Linked DNA regions of Homo sapiens. The protein of the gene in region 1 purifies or fractionates together with the protein of each later gene. This does not show direct contact. Each region holds a gene or a part of one and is shown in the gene's direction. Other genes may lie near its edges.

What was found.
Region 2: the proteins of BEND3 (region 1) and RBPJ purify together in Homo sapiens (affinity purification with mass spectrometry; one large-scale study listed by BioGRID and IntAct). This does not show direct contact.
Region 3: the proteins of BEND3 (region 1) and NOL6 purify together in Homo sapiens (affinity purification with mass spectrometry; one large-scale study listed by BioGRID and IntAct). This does not show direct contact.
Region 4: the proteins of BEND3 (region 1) and MAP7 purify together in Homo sapiens (affinity purification with mass spectrometry; one large-scale study listed by BioGRID and IntAct). This does not show direct contact.
Region 5: the proteins of BEND3 (region 1) and POC1A purify together in Homo sapiens (affinity purification with mass spectrometry; one large-scale study listed by BioGRID and IntAct). This does not show direct contact.

Annotation. Positions count from the first base shown.
Region 1 is NC_000006.12:107,073,898-107,077,615, reverse strand, and holds part of BEND3 (BEN domain-containing protein 3), read left to right. Parts: intron 1-3,718. UniProt on the Homo sapiens protein: Transcriptional repressor which associates with the NoRC (nucleolar remodeling complex) complex and plays a key role in repressing rDNA transcription.
Region 2 is NC_000004.12:26,418,297-26,422,014, forward strand, and holds part of RBPJ (recombining binding protein suppressor of hairless), read left to right. Parts: intron 1-2,254; coding exon 2,255-2,429; intron 2,430-3,718. UniProt on the Homo sapiens protein: Transcriptional regulator that plays a central role in Notch signaling, a signaling pathway involved in cell-cell communication that regulates a broad spectrum of cell-fate determinations.
Region 3 is NC_000009.12:33,467,345-33,471,062, reverse strand, and holds part of NOL6 (nucleolar protein 6), read left to right. Parts: intron 1-871; coding exon 872-1,051; intron 1,052-1,395; coding exon 1,396-1,564; intron 1,565-1,721; coding exon 1,722-1,856; intron 1,857-1,941; coding exon 1,942-2,105; intron 2,106-2,190; coding exon 2,191-2,311; intron 2,312-2,496; coding exon 2,497-2,555; intron 2,556-2,640; coding exon 2,641-2,742; intron 2,743-2,917; coding exon 2,918-3,033; intron 3,034-3,127; exon of another isoform or gene 3,128-3,194; coding exon 3,195-3,372; intron 3,373-3,546; coding exon 3,547-3,669; intron 3,670-3,718. UniProt on the Homo sapiens protein: Part of the small subunit (SSU) processome, first precursor of the small eukaryotic ribosomal subunit.
Region 4 is NC_000006.12:136,368,797-136,372,514, reverse strand, and holds part of MAP7 (ensconsin), read left to right. Parts: coding exon 1-14; intron 15-3,718. UniProt on the Homo sapiens protein: Microtubule-stabilizing protein that may play an important role during reorganization of microtubules during polarization and differentiation of epithelial cells. Associates with microtubules in a dynamic manner.
Region 5 is NC_000003.12:52,095,295-52,099,012, reverse strand, and holds part of POC1A (POC1 centriolar protein homolog A), read left to right. Parts: intron 1-2,300; coding exon 2,301-2,444; intron 2,445-3,718.

The DNA of each region.
Region 1 (3,718 bases):
TCTTTTCCCTTCATTATAGTTGCTTTATCTCCCCAGAATCTTGTTTCTTCGGCCATCTTAGCACATCCTTCACCCTTACCATATAGTGTTGGCAGCAGAAGGATGACCCACAGAGTAAGAGCCGTGAGAGCAGAGACTGTGTCTGGCTTGATCCTGGGAGGTCACCGTATTGATGCTGAACTTAGTGAGGGGTACCACTGGGTTGCCTAAGGAGGGGTGAACCGGCTCAGGTCAGAAACAGAGCAGGTCAGAACTCCCCTGCTGATCAGTAGTGGGGTCACGCCTGTGAACATAGGCAACTTAGTGCAGCCCTGTCTCTGATTTAATTTAAAAAAAAATTGTTTTGGCCAGATGTGGTGGCTCACACTTGTAATTCCAACACTTTGGGAAGCCAAGGTGGGCCGATTACTGGAGCTCAAGAGTTCGAGGCCAGCCTGGACAACATGGTGAGCACATTTAAAATAGGATTTTGTGCAGAAAGAGATCATTAGAAATTCATATACTGTGCAACAAGAGTACATGTTCTAGAGGGAGACCTGCCCTAATTAATACCCAGGATAGAAAAATAAGTACAGGGTCTCTACTAAAAATACAAAAAAAATTAGCTGACCATGGTGGTGTGTGCCTGTGGTCCCAACTACTTGGGAGGCTGTGGTGGGAGGATAACTTGAGCCTGGGGAGGGTGGGGAGTGATGGCGAAGGTTGCAGTGAGCCAAGATCACATCACTGCACTCCAGCCTGGGCAACAGAGTGAGATCCTGTCTCAAAAAAAAATTTGATGATGATGATGAAAATAATAATGTTGAAAATGAAAGTGGTATAAGCATCATTCATGCGACTGTGATTCCAGGAGGGAGATGCCAGCCCAACTGACCACTGTTTCACATGGCCTCTCTGCTTCCCCAAGCCATGCTGCTTTCTGAGTGTTCCAGCGTGCTGACTCTCAGGGCACTTTTGAGCCACTCATTCATTGAACTAAATTCAGTGACCACTCTTGGATTTGGGGTTGCGATGAAGACGTCTAGCACTTGGAGCATCTCCAGGGTGTCCCACTCCCTGGGATGTCACTGGGCATGGACACCTGGAGTCTCCCTAAATAGTCTATTTACCCCTCACTTGTAACCCAACATCAGCTTCTTTTTGTTCAGTCAGATTCTCCAGCTGAGAGATTTGGGCATTCTCTCTGGGTTCTACGGGTGCTGGTGGCTGAATGAAACGCCCTGATCAAGATCCGGGCTAGACGCTGGCATTGCAGAGCCTGAGCTGTACAGCAGAGTTCCCATATGGTTGGAAGACGAGCCTCAGAGAATTGGGAATGTGTCAGCCAGTCCTACCCAGTGCCAAGTAGCACAGATTTAAAGATTTCTTGATACTCCTAGACAGCTGAGCCGAGATTTTATCATCAGCCACAAACGCAGCCAGCCCATTGCCGCCTTGGCAGCATTTGTGGAATTAATTGGAGCACTGAGCTGACAGGACACCAGTGTGGGAGTATCTAAGAAGTTTCTCTTCAGTGCTTGTGTTGTGTTCTGTGTTGAATTGTGTACCCAAGGTTTCTGGGAGTGAATATTGCCCTCTACTGGGACACTAACATTTTTAATTCAAGCAATCTAGCCAAAAATGTTTCTGTTGACGGCAGTGTTTCTAACATGCTTGGTGGAAATGGAAATATTTGTATTAATGAGGCTGAATATTGAGAGTTATGGGGGGTTTCCCAGTTTCAATGTACTCTTGCCTCCCACCTGCTGTAGGAATGTGAGGGAGTCAAACCTTGTGTGTGTTGTTGGTATTCAAATAATTCACCAGAAACTTTTCCCTGTACTCATTTCTCCCCTGGGCAAGTCTCCCTCTAGAACATGTACTCTTGTTGCATGCTATATACGTTTCTGATGATCTCTTTCTTAGGAAATTCTATTTTAAATGTGCTAATGGAACCTTATTTTAAAGCAAAGTCTCCTTTTCTAAAATCACTCCTAATATAGTTATGATTTGTAATTGTTAGTACTCCAAACCCAAATTTCTCTCTATTGGTAAACCTTATAGTAATCTTATAGTCCATGGGACCTCTAAAATTATTTTAGTGTAATAGAACTAAATGGTGAATAAATTGCCAAAAATTTTACTTTACATTCTACAGGAATTAGCAAGTAAGGCACTTTGTATTTGTTAGGGCAATGGTTTTCCACAGTGACCCACAGTTATAAATCACCTTATAGAGCAATACAACTTACCTGTATGAATTTGTAAATAAGTATTTAGACATACACATAGTAATGAAACAAAACTCTTAACTTGATTTACTTTGTGCAGTACACTTTGATATTTTCTATTCTTTTTGCTTTCTTATTTCCTCCTTCCCTCCCTCTTTATTTATTTATTTATTTATTTTTGAGACACAGTCTCACTCTGTCGCCTAAGCTATGGTACAGTGGTGCAGTCACAGCTCACTGCAACCTCCACCTCCAAGACTCAAGTGATCCTCCCACCTAAGCCTCCCTAGTGGCTAATCCTTCCCTCTTCTTTTTTTTTTTTGAGACGCTCTGTTGCCCAGGCTGGAGTGCAGTGGCACTCACTGCCACCTCCGCCTCCCGGGTTCAAGTGATTCTCCTGCCTTAGCCTCCTGAGTAGCTGGGACTACAGGCGTGTGCTACCACTCCCAGCTAATTTTTTGTATTTTTAGTAGAGATGGAGTTTCACTGCGTTAGCCAGGATGGTCTCAATCTCCTGACCTCGTGATCCACTCACCTCAGCCTCCCAAAGTGCTGGGATTATAGGCATGAGCCACCGTGCCCGGCTCCTCCCTCTTCACGATCCACCAAAATCAGTTATCATCTACTATCCCACAATTTGAAACACTGCATTAGGGGTAAAGGTTTTCAGCTATCTCCACCCCTTCCTTTCTGGTGTGTGTATATGTTTTCTTTTCTTTCTTTTTTAAAGAAATAATGCCAGATAACAGAACAGAAGAAACATAAAGGGCTTAAATTCCCAGCCTTTAGGACAAACAGACCTCTAAGAAGTGCCTTCCATGAGTGACTTACCCTGAGGCACTGTGGGAAAGTCCTTCTCAGTGTACTTGAGAGTGTCATTACAACTCCCCTAATAAAAGTCCCCTACAGAACTACCTCTGCCATGGCTTGGGAATAGCATTACGTAATAATAAATCATATTGTAATAATAAATTTTTATGTATTTATTTTTGAGACAGAGTCTCACTCTGTTGCCCAGGCCAGAGTGCAGTGGCACGATCTTGGCTCACTGCAACCTCCGCCTCCCAGGTTCAAGCAGTTCTCCTGCCTCAGCCTCCCGAGTAGCTGGGATTACAAGCACGCGCCACCACACCCAACTAATTTTGTATTTTTAGTAGAGATGGGGTTTCACCGTGTTGGCCAGGCTAGTTTCGAACTCCTGACCTCAAGTGATCCACCCGCCTCGGCCTCCCAAAGTGCTGGGATTACAGGCATGAGCCACCGCACCCGGCCATAAATATTTATTAAGCACTTAGTGTGATTCAGATAGACTCAGTGCTGTGTGTGCACTGTCTCCTTAAATCCTCACAACCACCCTGTGGGACAGGTAGCATGATTTACCCTGAGTAAAGGAAGGTGAGGCTTACAAGGTCACAAACAGAATGCTTGCTGATTGAGCTGAGTTCTTAGCCACACCTTCATGCCAGTGCTCTTATCAGAACAGCTCCTTTTCTTTTTTTTCTCCTTTT
Region 2 (3,718 bases), on another chromosome or scaffold:
AAATGTAATTTTAGTTTTATTTGCTTATTTTCTATGAGTCAGTGACTTTTTCCTTCTTTTCTTAATGGAATTTGAGTAGTTTGTGGTCAGTGGCCTTATAGTTTTTTAAAACTAATAGTTCCCATAAAATTATCTTGATTATGATTTTTGTGGATTCAAACTACTCATTGTAATTAGGGATATATTTCCTTTCTTTCCAAGGAGATATATGTGTGTTTGTTTTTTCCGAACAAAATGCAGTTCTTTTTGTGTAGGTCTTATGATCCAACCTTCTTGGTTCTTTTTTTCCGTTCTTGTTTGCCAATATGTCTTATTTATGCTGGATTTCAGTATTTTCTCTTTCTGATATGGATCTTACCTTTTAATTTTAACACTCAAAAGCCATCTCAACATTTTTAAGCTTTCCCATTAGAATGTAATTACCTTCATTTAGATATAAATTTCATTTTTGCTTCCCATGACTGTCTGCTTTAGTACATTGATACCCATTTTCATAGACCTCGTCTTATGTTGCAGAAGAATTTCATTGTTTAGGCTTAATTTGACCTTCAATGCTGTCTGTCACTTTTAAGAGTATGGCCGACCTATGGGTATAGCAGCTCACAGATGCCATCTCTGAGTGCGTTAGAGATCTTGGGTGCAAGGAGTGATGTGACTGCAAAGTACTGTTGTTTTTTGTTTCTTTATCTTTATTCATTTTGAGACAGGGTGCCACCGTGCCGCCCAGGCTGGAGTGCGGTGGTGGGATCACGGCCCATTACAACCTCTGCCTCCTGGGCTCAAGCGACCGTCCCACCTCAGCCTCCTGAGTAGCTGGGACTACAGGCATGCACCACCATGCCTGGATAATTTTTGTGTTTTTCGTAGAGATGGGGTTTCACCATGTTGCTCAGGCTGGTCTCAAACTTCTGGACTTAAGCAGTCTGTCCACCTTGGCCTCCCAAAGTGCTGAGATTACAGGCATGAGCCACCACCCTGGCCTGTTTTTATTTATTACTATGATTGGCTTTATCTTATTTTTGCCTTCTACAGAGCAAAACCTCTCAAAGCTTTTACCAAACTTTTGATTTTTAAAAACTTAGTTAAATGTATAATGTTCAAGATGGCATCTAAATTTTCTTATATAGCTTTGCTATGAGAAATACAATAAACTATTGCAGTAGTTTTGTCTGCTACCGAGGCTGTCTGTGAATAAAATTTTAAAGATAAAAACCTAGAAGTCATTAACTGTTTCCTGAGTAGCATTTGCTCTGCTTTTTAAAAGGAAGATACAGGAGAGGCAGTTGAAGAAACTTGTTTAGCTTAATTTTAAAGTGGAATGTTGATCCTTTAAAAAATATAATTCGATACTTTAGATACTTATGCTGTGTTTCAGCATCATTTATCTTATCTGGAAAAGGACAATAATTTAGACCCCTCCCTGATTCACAGGGATCAAGAGAATAGGAAAGATTTTAGAATTGTTATATATAATATAAGCAGTAGCATTTTGAAGGGTCTTTGCTGTTTGTAAAGTGCTATATCTCTTTATCTTTTCAGTTATCAGAATTTAAATTCTGGTAAACTGACATAATGCCTTGAGCATTTTCTCTAGTACCTTTAAATTCAGTTCTTCTGGTGATACATATGAATCGTCCTTTTGGGCAAAGTTAACCATTTTAAAAATAGTTCTTTAAAGTAATGCTTATATAATCTCTTTCTGGTTTAAGATATTTTATAATCATCCAGTTTGTCTATCATTGTTTTCCTCAATCTTATAAGTGATTACTCTAGTGTTCAGCTATATAAAGAAAAATATTTTATGCACTATTTTGAGAAGAACTACTGCTAAAATCTTTTACATAATTTCTTGAATTCTGATAGCTTTATTATTATTTTTTTTTTGGAGAAAGTCATTGATTTTTTTTAACTGTAAAATTTATTTTAAAAGTTACTGCTGTAACGTTGAGTGATAATTCCATGATACAGTTGTAGAGCTATGTAAAACAAGAAAAGGCTGTTTTTTTAAATGGTCTTTTAAAGAGGATACAATAGATGACAATGTTTGTGTTCTACAGACTTTATAAGGAAGACTTTGTACTTTTCCGAAATCAATTTCAGTAATTTTTATAGTTGATAATTTTTAGAGTTGGTTTTATCAGCTATCCCTTGGAATTGTTTTACTTATTACTTAAACCATGGCCATTCTGAGTTTTAGGTACTACATAAACAAACAAGGTTTTGCTGCTGTTAAAACTTTACTTTTCTTTCACAGAACTATTGCACAGCCAAAACATTGTATATATCTGACTCAGACAAGCGAAAGCACTTCATGTTGTCTGTAAAGATGTTCTATGGCAACAGTGATGACATTGGTGTGTTCCTCAGCAAGCGGATAAAAGTCATCTCCAAACCTTCCAAAAAGAAGCAGTCATTGAAAAATGCTGACTGTATGTATGCTTTTCTTATTTATCCCCAACTGCCACCATGAATTAATAAGACAGACTCTTTTTTAAATTAAAAATTGCCTTTTCAATAGCCAATTAATTCTTTACTAATATTTTTGTGGCCCTCTTTATTGTCTCTCTTTTTTTAATCGTAAATCGACAGTATGTGGTCTAATGAAGCAGTTCTTAACCAGAGTTGGTTCCTTAATGCTCCCAGGGACATTCTGGGGAAATGGGAGATTTTCTCCTTCTGTTGTTACAGTGACTGGAGGGGGTGATGTTGGCTTTGGGTGTCTTGAGCCTGTGGTGCTGAATTGAATGTCCTGCAGTGTCCAAGGTAGTTCCCATTCCACAAAGAATTGATCTACCCACAATGTCAACAAGTACCCCTTTGAAAAACGCTACCAACTAAATGGGCTTTGGCAGGCCTTCCTGAGAATCTAAACACAATTTTTAATGTGGTTGCTCTGGCAGAGACTGCTGTCTCATCAGCCTATTTTTAGACTACCAAACAAGTATGTTTGAATTATAAATTTAACCTCCACACCCATTTTTCTTTTTTTAACTTTTTATTATGGAGACTTTTCTTTTTTTTTTTGAGATGGACTCTTACTCTGTCGCCCAGGCTGGAGTGCAGTGGCAGGATCTCAGCTCACTGCAACCTCCACCTCCCGGGTTCAACCAATCCTCCCTGCCTCAGCCTCCTGAGTAGCTGGGATTACAGGTGCCCACCATCACGCCCGGCTGATTTTGTATTTTTTAGTAGAGATGAGGTTTCGCCATTTGGCCAGGCTGGTCTTGAACTCCTGACCTCAGGTGATCCACCCACCTCGACCTCCCAAAGTGTTGGGATTGCAGGCGTGAGCCACCATGCCTGGCTGAGACTTTCAAATTTATATAAAAGGGAGAAATTAGCCACCCAGCCTCAACAGGTTTTATCAATTCTGTTTCATTATCTCCATCACCACCAACACCTCTTCGTCTTCTAATTGCTGGAGTATTTTAATGTAAATCTCATCCTATCCTTTCAACCAAAATTTCTGCAATAGTGACTAATACATGCCCTTTTTTTTGAAACATCATTATACGTAACAGTTGACAGCAGCTCTTAAGTGTCATCTAATATCCTATTTCATGTACAGATTTATCAGATTGACCCAGAATGTCTTTTTATAGTTTTTTTGCTTTGTTTTGTTTTACAGTGGTTTGTTCAAACATGGATTCAGATAAGGTCCACACATTTTAGTCTGTAATAGTTTCTTCTCACCCTCTCTCACCTTTGTTTTCCTTCT
Region 3 (3,718 bases), on another chromosome or scaffold:
GACCTCAGGTAATTTGCTCTCCTTGGCCTTCCAAAGTGCTGGGATTACAGGTGTGAGCCACCGTGCCCAGCCTAAAACGTTCACTTTTCCAGCCTTAAAAAGTTTAGTTTTAGAAAAATTTACTCCGGCTGTTGTGTCAAAAGTAGAATCGAGAGGGACAATGATGAGATTAGAGAGACCAGTTAGGAACTAGTCTAGGCACTGAGAAATGGTGGCTCCTCAAACTAGGGAGGAAAGTAGTGAAGTGATCCATTTCTTTCTTTTTTTTTTTTTTTTTTAAATCTTTTCCTCTCTCTGTTTTAAAAAAGTTTTCTTTTTAGAGAAGTGATCCATTTCTGAATACATTTTGGTAGTAAAATGGGTATTCTTTTTTTTTTTGAGACAGAGTCTTGCTCTGTTCCCCAGGCTGTAGTGCAGTGGTGCGATCTCGGCTCACTGCATGCTCCGCCTTCCGGGTTCACGCCATTCTTCTGCCTCAGCCTCCCCAGCAGCTGGGACTACAGGCGCACGCCGCCATGCCCGGCTAATTATTTTTGTAGAGACGGGGTTTCACCGTGTTAGCCAGGATGGTCTCGATCTTCTGACCTCGTGATCCGCCCACCTCGGCCTCCCAAAGTGCTGGGATTACAGGCGTGAGCCACCACGCCCGGCTCGTAAAATGGGTATTCTTAACAGAGCTAAGTTAAGGTGATTTAAGTGGTTTTGGCTTGAGCAACTCATATGGAGTTGTCTTAGCAAGGAAGACATAGTTATGGGAAGATTGGGAGTTTGGTTTCAAACATATCGATGTGTTAAAATGTCTTCTAGACATAAAGGGTACATGTGAGGAAGGCAGTTGAATCAGTATGTGTCCCTGTCTCTGCCCCCACAGCTCACTGACCAGGCATGGCTCCCAGCTGGGGTTCGAGTGCCCCTCCACCAAGTGCCCTATGCCGTGAAGGGCTGTTTCCGCTTCCTGCCCCCAGCCCAGGTTACTGTTGTGGGCAGCTACCTTCTGGGCACCTGCATCCGACCAGACATCAATGTGGATGTGGCACTGACCATGCCCAGGGTAAGGTCCAGGGTTTAGGGGATAGAGGCCCACCACCTGACTACCTACAAATCCTGGATCCCTCTTTCTTATCTGCCGCTTGCCAGGGGATTGAAGTCAGAATTCTAAATCAGAAGAGCAGACCATTGCAGGCATCCTGAAGGCAGCTTAGATCCCTCGGGCCAGTTGCTGTCCTTTTGGAGCTTTGCTCTCCAGATATGAGAACTGGGCCTAGTGTTGCTAACCGTGGCTCAGGCACTTCTGTCAGCAGAGGAGCCCTGGCTCTCTCACCTTGGTTTCACCTTGGCCCACAGCTCCACAAGCACTTATGTGCCTGGCCTTCTCTTCTCCCCTGGCCCCTCCAGGAAATCCTACAGGACAAGGACGGGCTGAACCAGCGCTACTTCCGCAAGCGTGCCCTCTACCTGGCCCACTTGGCTCACCACCTGGCCCAGGACCCCCTCTTTGGCAGTGTTTGCTTCTCCTACACAAATGGCTGCCACCTGAAACCCTCACTGTTGCTGCGGCCGCGTGGTGAGAGGCACACATTGGGCTGAGGGCATAGCATGGGATGGTAAATCTGGAGGAGAAGGCACAGAGGCACGGAGGCCTCAAGTATGGGGGGACAGGATGGGGAGCCCTCTGGCTCCAAGGGCTCCTGCAGAGTCTCAGCACTCACTGTCTCTGGCAGGAAAGGATGAGCGCCTGGTCACTGTACGTCTGCATCCGTGCCCTCCACCTGACTTCTTCCGCCCGTGCCGCTTGCTGCCAACCAAGAACAATGTGCGCTCTGCCTGGTACCGAGGGCAGAGTCCTGCAGGGGATGGTGAGCAGGCCCTGGTGTTGAGGTGGAGCTGGAGGGAAGAGGTGTGGGGACTTTTCCTCTCATGGCTTCCCTTTTCATCCCACAGGTAGCCCAGAGCCTCCTACCCCCCGCTATAACACATGGGTCCTGCAAGATACAGTTCTCGAGTCCCATTTGCAGCTGCTGTCAACCATTCTGAGTTCAGCCCAGGGCCTGAAGGATGGCGTGGCACTTCTGAAGGTCTGGCTGCGGCAGCGGGAGCTGGACAAGGTGAGTTGGGGGTGGCGCAGCCTCCCTACCTGAGCGCCTGTGTGATGGGCAGGCTCTGACCTCAGCCTCTCCCTGTCTCTTTCAGGGCCAGGGTGGGTTTACTGGGTTCCTTGTCTCCATGCTGGTTGTCTTCCTTGTGTCTACACGCAAGATCCATACCACCATGAGTGGCTACCAGGTCCTGAGAAGTGTCTTGCAGTTTCTGGGTGAGGCAACTAGGTGGGGAAAGGCCAGGGGCTCCACTCCTCCTGGGAATCCTCTCATCCCAGTAGCAGTCTTTTGGTGTTTTGCCATCAGACAGATGAGCAAACTGAATCGGCTGAGGGAGGGTGTCATTAGGGCTGGGTCCCCAGAAGGGGATACCTTCTAATACACTTGTGATTCACTTCAGCCACTACAGACCTGACAGTCAACGGGATCAGTTTATGTCTCAGCTCAGATCCCTCTTTGGTGAGTTGGGGAAGGGCCAGGTCTATGCCAGGAGGCCTGCAAGTAAGGTGCCAATCCTGACCTGCTTCTCTCTACACCCCCCAAGCCGGCCCTGGCTGACTTCCACCAGGCCTTCTCCGTTGTCTTCCTGGATTCCTCAGGCCATCTCAACCTCTGTGCTGATGTCACTGCCTCTACTTACCACCAGGTACCAATGGGCCCCCAATCTGTGTTCCCCTGATGTCTCAGCCCAGACTCTGTCCCTTTTGCAAGTACCAGAACCCCAGAAACTCCTCTTCAAAGAGTTAAGTTTAGGGCATGTCTCCTGGTCTAAGCCCTTGGATCAATGAAGGGCACAGGGATGGTCCCTTCTGTGGCTCCAGGTACAGCATGAGGCACGGCTGTCTATGATGTTGCTGGACAGCAGAGCTGACGACGGGTTCCACCTGCTGTTGATGACTCCCAAACCCATGATCCGGGCTTTTGACCATGTCCTGCAGTGAGTTTAGGGGTGACAGGGTATGTTGGCGGGTCCTGTCTCTTCGGGGCTACAGTGGTGGGGCAAAGGTCTTCAGACAGGTGCTCAGATCATTCAGGGAGGAGGTGGTACTAGGGGCCAGCAACCTGATTACCCCTCTTTGGCCCTTTGTACCCCTCCAGTCTCCGTCCACTGAGTCGCCTGCAGGCAGCGTGCCACCGGCTGAAGCTCTGGCCAGAGCTGCAGGACAATGGTGGGGACTATGTCTCAGCTGCTTTGGGCCCCCTGACCACCCTCCTGGAGCAGGGCCTGGGGGCTCGGCTGAACCTGCTGGCTCACTCTCGACCCCCAGTCCCAGAGGTGAGGTGGTGTAGGTTGGGGAGTTTGGGTCTGAGTTGGGCTGGATCCAGGGTCCCAAGAGACACAAAGGACACACCATTCCTCCAGCTAGGCGTTTCTAGCTAGCTAGAAAGTAGGTTTCTAGGCCAGGCTGGAGGATTGGAGGACTGAGCTCAGCCTTTTGAAATCCTGCAGTGGGACATCAGCCAAGATCCACCAAAGCACAAAGACTCTGGGACCCTGACCCTGGGACTCCTTCTCCGGCCTGAGGGACTGACCAGCGTCCTTGAGCTGGGTCCAGAGGCAGACCAGCCTGAGGTGGGGGACCCCAGCATGTACACTGGAAGGAATGGGGTGGCTCGTCCTC
Region 4 (3,718 bases), about 29 Mb from region 1:
TTCATGGCACAGCGGTGAGTAGCTGTTGGGAGCAGCTGGGCAAGTCTGGGAGCCAGTGCTGTTCCTGTGCAGACTGTACATGACCCTGAGCTGTGGTGTGGGCGTAAGAGGGGGAGACCGTGACATCCACCATCCCATCTTTCCCATTGATCATGAATCTGGCTAGCTGGGCAGTAGTGTCCCCTCACTTCCTCTTCACTTGGGGATTTTGCTCTCCCTAAACATTTGAATTTGAAGATGAAAGCTGTTCTTTGTTCAAGCATGTATGAGTGGACGCCCTACCCTCCTGGAGCGTCCATACACATAAGTACAATGCCAGAATACTTTCATTTTTGAAAGTAGGAAAACCAAATGGCCTTTGAAGGGGAAGTGGGCTTGGACTGCTGCCTTGGCATTTTATTTCAACCATATCCAGAAGCTGGCTGAACTCTAAATGTGGTTCACTCAAAAGCAAGATAAAGAATTTTTATCCTGCTTGGCTAATCCCTGTCAAGGCCCTGTCAAGGGATCTTAAAATTTAGTCAAAAAAGTATTTTGAAAACATTAGTCATTTGCTATATCACTAATTCGTAAAAGGCTGTTAGGCTGTGCTATAAATTCTGATTTTGTAAGTGAAAAATATAATTTGTACTTATTATTACGGGCTGAGGTAATGTTAATTTTCACCATGCTATAAATGCAATGAGGTAATTTGTATGTCTCCAGGAATCTTCTTCTTTGTTTTAAATCTTGTGTTTATTTGGTGTCAGTTGAAAGATATAAACCTTGTTCTGTGGTCTTTAGACATTGTACTTTAGTCTTAAAGGACTCACCAGTGAACTAGAAGATCTCATTGCCTCTCTCCAGGATAACAGTATGACCCTTTTGATGAAAGGCTGAAACAGTTTCTTAAAATCGTAACTTCCCAGAGCAATTCAGATTTATAAACCTGATGGACACTTAAAAGGATTTTGCTTAAAGGATAATTCAGGGTTGTGAGAGCTTGATGGCTTTGCCTACAGCCTGTTTTTCTTTCAAGCTCCATCGGCCTTTCTGGAATCAGTGTTTGATTCATGATTGAGTCAGGCCTCCAACCCTCTAAGCCACAGGTGAAACAATCTTTGATGTCTGGAAAGTTTTAATTTATTAGAGTGTTGGTGTTTCAGAGATCCTCCTTAGCTGTAGACAGAAAGCCGTAGTTAAACAGAACAGGTTGGCCCCAAAGTTGGGTACTCACTGGGCAGGGGAAAAGAGCATTTACCATGGAAAAACTATCTTGTTCTGGGTAAAAACAAAAATTAACACTCCTTGAGAGAAGGTTGAGGGCCACCTGTGGCTGACAGGTTAAATGAGAGATTTGTCATCACATGATCCAGAGCCTTGTTTTGTTTTGTTTTTATTACCTTCCTCTTTCTCTATTTAATCACATAGCTGTCTTTTTACCTCTTTACAACCAAGTATTTAGGCAAATACTAACAGAAAACGACTCAGAGTCATTTATACCCTGGAGCTGCACTGTGGAATTCAGTAGTGACTGGCCACAGTGAGCACTTGGAAAGTGGCTACTGAAACTGACAAGCTAAATTTTAAGTTTTTAAAAAATATTTAGTTGTGTTAAAAAAAAAAAAAAGCATGTAACGTAAAATTTACCATTTTAATCATTCTAAAGTTCAGCAGTGTTAAGTATATTCATATTGAAGTGCAACCAATGTCCAGAACTTTTTAAGTCCTGCAAAACTCAAACTCTATACCCATTAAACAACTCCCCATTTCCCCCTCCCCCCAGGCCCTGGCAGCCACTGTTTTAATTTCTGTTCCTATGAATTTAGCTACTTTATAGACCACATAAAAGTGAAATCATGCAGTGTTTGAATTTTTGTGCCTGGCTTATTTCACTTAGCATAATGTCCTCAAGGTTCATTCTTATTATAGCATATGTCAGAATTTCCTTCCTTTTTAGGGCTGAATTATATTCCATTATATTTGTATACCACATTTTGTTTATCAGTTCATGTGTTGGTGAACATTTGGGTTGCTTTCACCTCGTGGCTATTGTGAATAACGCTGCTATGAACATGGGAATATAGATATCTCTAGAGATTGTTCTTTCAATTTCACTTGATATATAGGGATTGCTGGATCATATAGTAATCCTATTTTCAATTTTTTGAGGAGCCTCCATGCCATTTTCCACAGCAGCTGTACCATTTTACATTCCCACTAACAGTGCACAAAGATTTCTGTATCTCCACATTCTCGCCAACAATCGTGATCTTGTTTTTTGATAACAGCCACCTTAAGGAATGTGAGGTGATGTCTTGTAGTTTTGGTTTGCATTTCTTTAATGATCAGTGATGGTGAACATATTTTCATATGCTTGTTGGCTTTTCATGTGTCATCGTTAGAAAAATGGCAATTCCAGTCTTTGCTCACTTTTTAATGGGGTTATTTTGTTTTTGTTGAATTGTAGAGTTATTTATATATTCTAGTAGTAACCCCTTATTAAATATATGACTTACAGATACTTTCTTCTATTCCATAGGTTGCCTTTTTACTCTACTGATTGTTTCCTTTGATATATAGAAGTGTTTAAGTTTGATGTTGTCCCATTTGTTTATTGTTAATTTATTGACACTTTATTGCCTACGCTTTTAGTGTTATATCCAAGAAATCAGTACCAAACACAGTGTCATGAAGCTTTTCACTTATGTTTTCTTCTAGAGGTTTTATAGTGTTAAGTCTTACATTTAAGTCTTTAATCCATTTTGAGTTAACTTTTGTATATTTTAGAAGGTAAGAGTCCAACTTCATTCTTTTGCATTTGGATATCCAGTTTTCCCTGCATCATTTGTTGAAGAGAATGTCCTTGTTTCATTGAGTGGTGTTAGCTTTTGACCATATACACAAGGGTTTGTTTCTGGGCTCTGGATTCTATTCCATTGGTCTATATATCTTTTTTTTTTTTGAGACAGTCTCACTCTGTCACCCATGCTGGAGTACAATGGCACAATCTCAGCTCACTGCAACCTCTGCCTCCCAGGCTCAAGCAATTCTCATGTCCAGCCTTCTGAGTAGCTGGGAATACAGGCATGTGCTACCACGCCCATCTAATTTTTGTATTTTTAGTAGAGAGAGGGTTTCGCCATGTAGGCCAGGCTGGTCTTGAACTCCTGACCTCAAGCGATCCACCCATCTCGGCCTCCCCAAATGCTGGGATTGCAGACATGAGTCGTAGTGCCCAGCCCCATATATCTATATCTGTCTTGATACCATTACCACACAGTACTGATCACTGTAGCTTTTCACCAATTGAGTATCTCTAATTCAAAAATACAGAATGCTCCAAAATGTGAAACTTTTTGAATACCAACATGACACTCAAAGGAGATGCTCATTGGAGCATTTCACATTTCCAGTTATATGGATTAAGGCTGCTAAAGCAGTAAGTGTTAATGCAAGTATTCCAGAATCTGAAATCTGCACACTGTAATCCCAATCATTTTGGATAAGGGATACTCAACCTGTAATATGTTGTGAAATCAGGAAATGTAAGAATTCCAACTTTGTTCTTTTTCAAGATTATTTTGGTTCTTCAGGATCCTTTGAAATTTTCTGTGAATTTTGGGTTGAATTTTTATATTTCTGCAAAAATAAAAAATTATATTGGGATTTCAATAGGGAATGCATGGAATCTGTGGATCCCTTTTGGTAGTAGTGACATCCTAACAGTATTAAATCT
Region 5 (3,718 bases), on another chromosome or scaffold:
AGGCTGTCTCATGTCCGGGAAGAGCCTGCACTTTGGGTTCAGATCCCAATTCTGTTATTTGCTGGGTAACTTAGAACAAGTTACTTAACCTCTTTGAGCCCAAGGGTCCATATCTGAAAAATAAGGTTAATAATGCCTATTGGGAAGGGCCATCATAAGGATGAAGTGAGGTTACACGTATTAAGTGAGGTGACATTAAATGAGGGCACACAGTGGATGGCAAGTAAACCATGGCGATTGCTGGACTGGTGGAGTGTTAAGTGCTGTGGTGTTTTCTGATGGGAGTGGGCAAGGAGGCAGGGAAATGGCTCAGGGCAGCACTAGAGTTTGAGGCTGGTTACCTTTAGACAGTCGTTTTCTGACTGAGCCTTAGTTCTCTTTATTGTCAAATGGAGACAGCCCATGAAAGTGTGGTATAGGTGGGAAAACATGGTGGCTGCCGCAACCCTCTGTTGTAAAGGCCACCTCTCCAGCTTGGAGTGCCATGGCCGCTGTCTTTAATACTCCCTTGGAGCTGGCTCAGCTTTGGCTCATCCAGGAGGGTTTCTATTGCTAAAGTCAGTGGTACTCACCCTGCCTCCCTGCAGCATCCACTGTGCTTCCAGAGGCTGAGCTCAGCACTGTCCATTTCTGGGCCATTCTGCAGAAACTCACATTTTCCATTCCCTCCTTCCTAAGCAGCCAGCAGCACCAGACTCTGGCCCATTCCATGACAATGCTGGCTGTGGGACAGAAGAGTTCCCTGCTCACACCCTTCCTCCAGTGGAAGAGTGTGTGTCTGCACTGCTAGGGGGTCCTCTGGAAGGAGTGGGCACAGCACTGAACATTTCTTAAGAAAGGCCTGCTGGTAGCTTCAGATAAGCACCTCTCACAGCCCAGCCGTTTGAAGGACTGGCCCAGTCTTCATCCCTATTTTATAGATGAGGAAATGGAGGCCCAGAGCTGGTCAGTGACTGTCTGAGTCACCATTCCTCACCACTGCACTCTGCTGTGTCTCCTGACAGAACTGCCTTAGTCTGGGGGCCACTGTGGTAGGCTGAAGTCTCTCCTGGCAAGGCTGGTGGACTTCTGAAATTTCCTTTTGGGATGGGCTTCTGGGTAAGCATTGAGATCTGAAGCACGTTGATTCCTGGAGGACTGGAAGAGACCCAGCCCTGATGGCCGAAGTCTTAGAAATGGCCACGGAAGTGGCCGACATGCTGATGATAGGTGTGTGGACACGGTGCTGCTCATGCTGTCAAGAACATCCCTCTGGCTCATGTCTCACATTCAAGTTCTCCTGTAGCTACCATGAGGGCCAGCATTTTTCCAAGTTCAAATCAGCATGCCCTTGAAAGTTTGTGATCTATGAGAATAGAATACTTACCTAATAAAGGAAAACATGCAGGTAGGGTCCATGTGCTGAACCACATTCCCACAGGAACAAGTCCACAGAGGAACTGCAGGCTCTAAGACCAGCCCTGCCCTTGGACATCCTTGGCTCCAGCATCCCGCCCACTGAACATGTGCACAGCACTTCTTCGGTCCACAGAAGCCTTTGTGCATAAGGCAAGGAGCTGACTTTGCTGAATTTAGGGGCTGAAGGGCCTTACGCAGAAACACTAAGCCCCTCACCTCCTGGAGTCCTATCTGAAGCAGCCCAGGGGTGCCTTTCCTGTGGAGTCTGATTCCTGCCAGCCATGTGCCAGCCTGGGACATGCACACAGAAATCTTTGTTTTTCCAGGGGATCTGGGCCAGGGTGGGGTTGGAACACCCCTCTCCCCGCCACACACACACTTCCACCAAGTTCTGGGCCACAGCTTCTTGGGCCTGGGAAAGGCATTTGTGAAGCCTGGCACACCCCCATGTTGAAGGGTGGGGAATTAGAGTTGAGCTGACCAGGAAGAGGAGGGACTTCAGGCCCAGGCCAGGCTTCAGCATCTCTGGACTCACCTGGATGCCTGCTGGTGGGTGCCAGCTGCTTGAAGATATGGGAGGCAGCTAGCTTCCCTGAGGGGCTCCAAGAGCAGGCTGAGGCCACTCACTGGCCTGCCTACCTGCCCTCCTCCCCAGGCCCCTTCCTGCCTGGATCACAAGGCATTCTGATTCCACTCCCCACTTAAGGCCTCTGCCTGGAAAGGTATGTGTGTGGACCCAGATGTGGGAACACCGCCACGCTGCTGTTTCTTACTGACACTTGGAGCTTACCTTCTCAAATTTGCTGGTGGTTTTCCCTTTCATCCTTTGGAGGGGCTATTCCTCTCACAGTATTTCTTCAAGCACTGGATAGACTGAGGAACTTTTTTCTTTCTGTCTTTAGCCAGAAGTGGACTTCCCTGTCCCCCCAGGCAGAGGCAGGAGTGTGGAGTCTGTGCAGAGCCAGCCCCAGGAGCCCGTGAGTGTGCCCCAGACACTGACTAGCACGCTGGAGCACATTGTGGGCCAGCTGGATGTCCTCACTCAGGTAGGCCACACTGTGGGTTCACCCGTCATCCCGTCATCTGCACTTGGTCCCGCATTTGGACCGTTTGAAGTTGGACAACAGGTGCTGGATTTTTAAAAACATAATTATAACGGACCTGTTTTCCAGTCCATATTAATGACATTGCAGAGCCTTCCCGGGGATCCTGGCTCTTGGAGCCATTCAAGCCCTGGCCAGACCACTAGACTCCAAAATCCCCAATGCTGGGTACTACTGGAGTGTGCTCACCTAGAGCTGGCCTGGGCCACTGAAGAGCTTTGAAAGAAACACTGTGTTTGTTTATTCCTCCCACTCTTTGCTGGATGGGCACTGCAGGGGCATGCCAGGGAACTGAGTAGTGAGTCAGGGCTTCTGAGAACCTAGGCTATGAGTTTGAGCCTGGACCTTTCCTTATCCTCTGTGCAACCTTGGGGAAATCCCTTTAGTTCACCAAGCCCTGGTATGTTTATCTGTAATGTGCTGGTGGTTGTGGGCTCTGCCTGCCACATTCATGGTGAGAATTAAGGGAGATGAATCTGGGAAATGTTTGGCCCATGCCTGGCCCTAGGTAGCTGCTCAATAAATGTTAGTTGTGGCCCTGACCACCCTCGTCACTGAGATGGATATGGGCCCTGCCCTCTGGAGCGTAGGTTGGCAGCCATAACACAGGCTCGTAGTGTAGCAGTTTCAGTAAGAGCAAAATCCCTTGACAAGAGGTGGTGGCCAGCAATAGGGGCATGCTTGGCAGGGCCATTTCACCCGAGGGAGGAAGAGAGGTCCTGGCTGCCTGTGGCTCTGGAGAGGCCATGGGCACGTCCAGGGAATGAGTGAAGCTCCAGGTGGCTGTCATGTGGATATGTGGTCTTGGGGTGGGGGGCAAGGCAGGATTTAGAGGTTCCCCAATTCCTCATCTCCTTGGCTCTTGAGGCCAGGCTGGGACTCTGCAGATCCTCCTCTACCATGCCAGCACATGGGTAGAGCGAGGCTGCAAGAGGGACACATGTGGCCCACGAGGAAAAGAGGTGTTAAAGCCAGGGGGTGGGGGATGGGGAAGCAAGGAAGAGTGGTCTCCAGTCCAGCTCACATGAAGGACGCAAAGGACCCTTGATGTCACTAACGGAAATGGAGCTGAGATGGCATGGTATCCTTTCCCCAGCTTGGGATCGTGGGCTAAGTGAGAAAAGCTCTTCCAGGGTGTGTCATCATAGCCCAGCTGGGATGGCACACCTTGGGCCCACTGAAGAAAGCACTCTTGAAGGGAAAGGCCAGGTGTCATG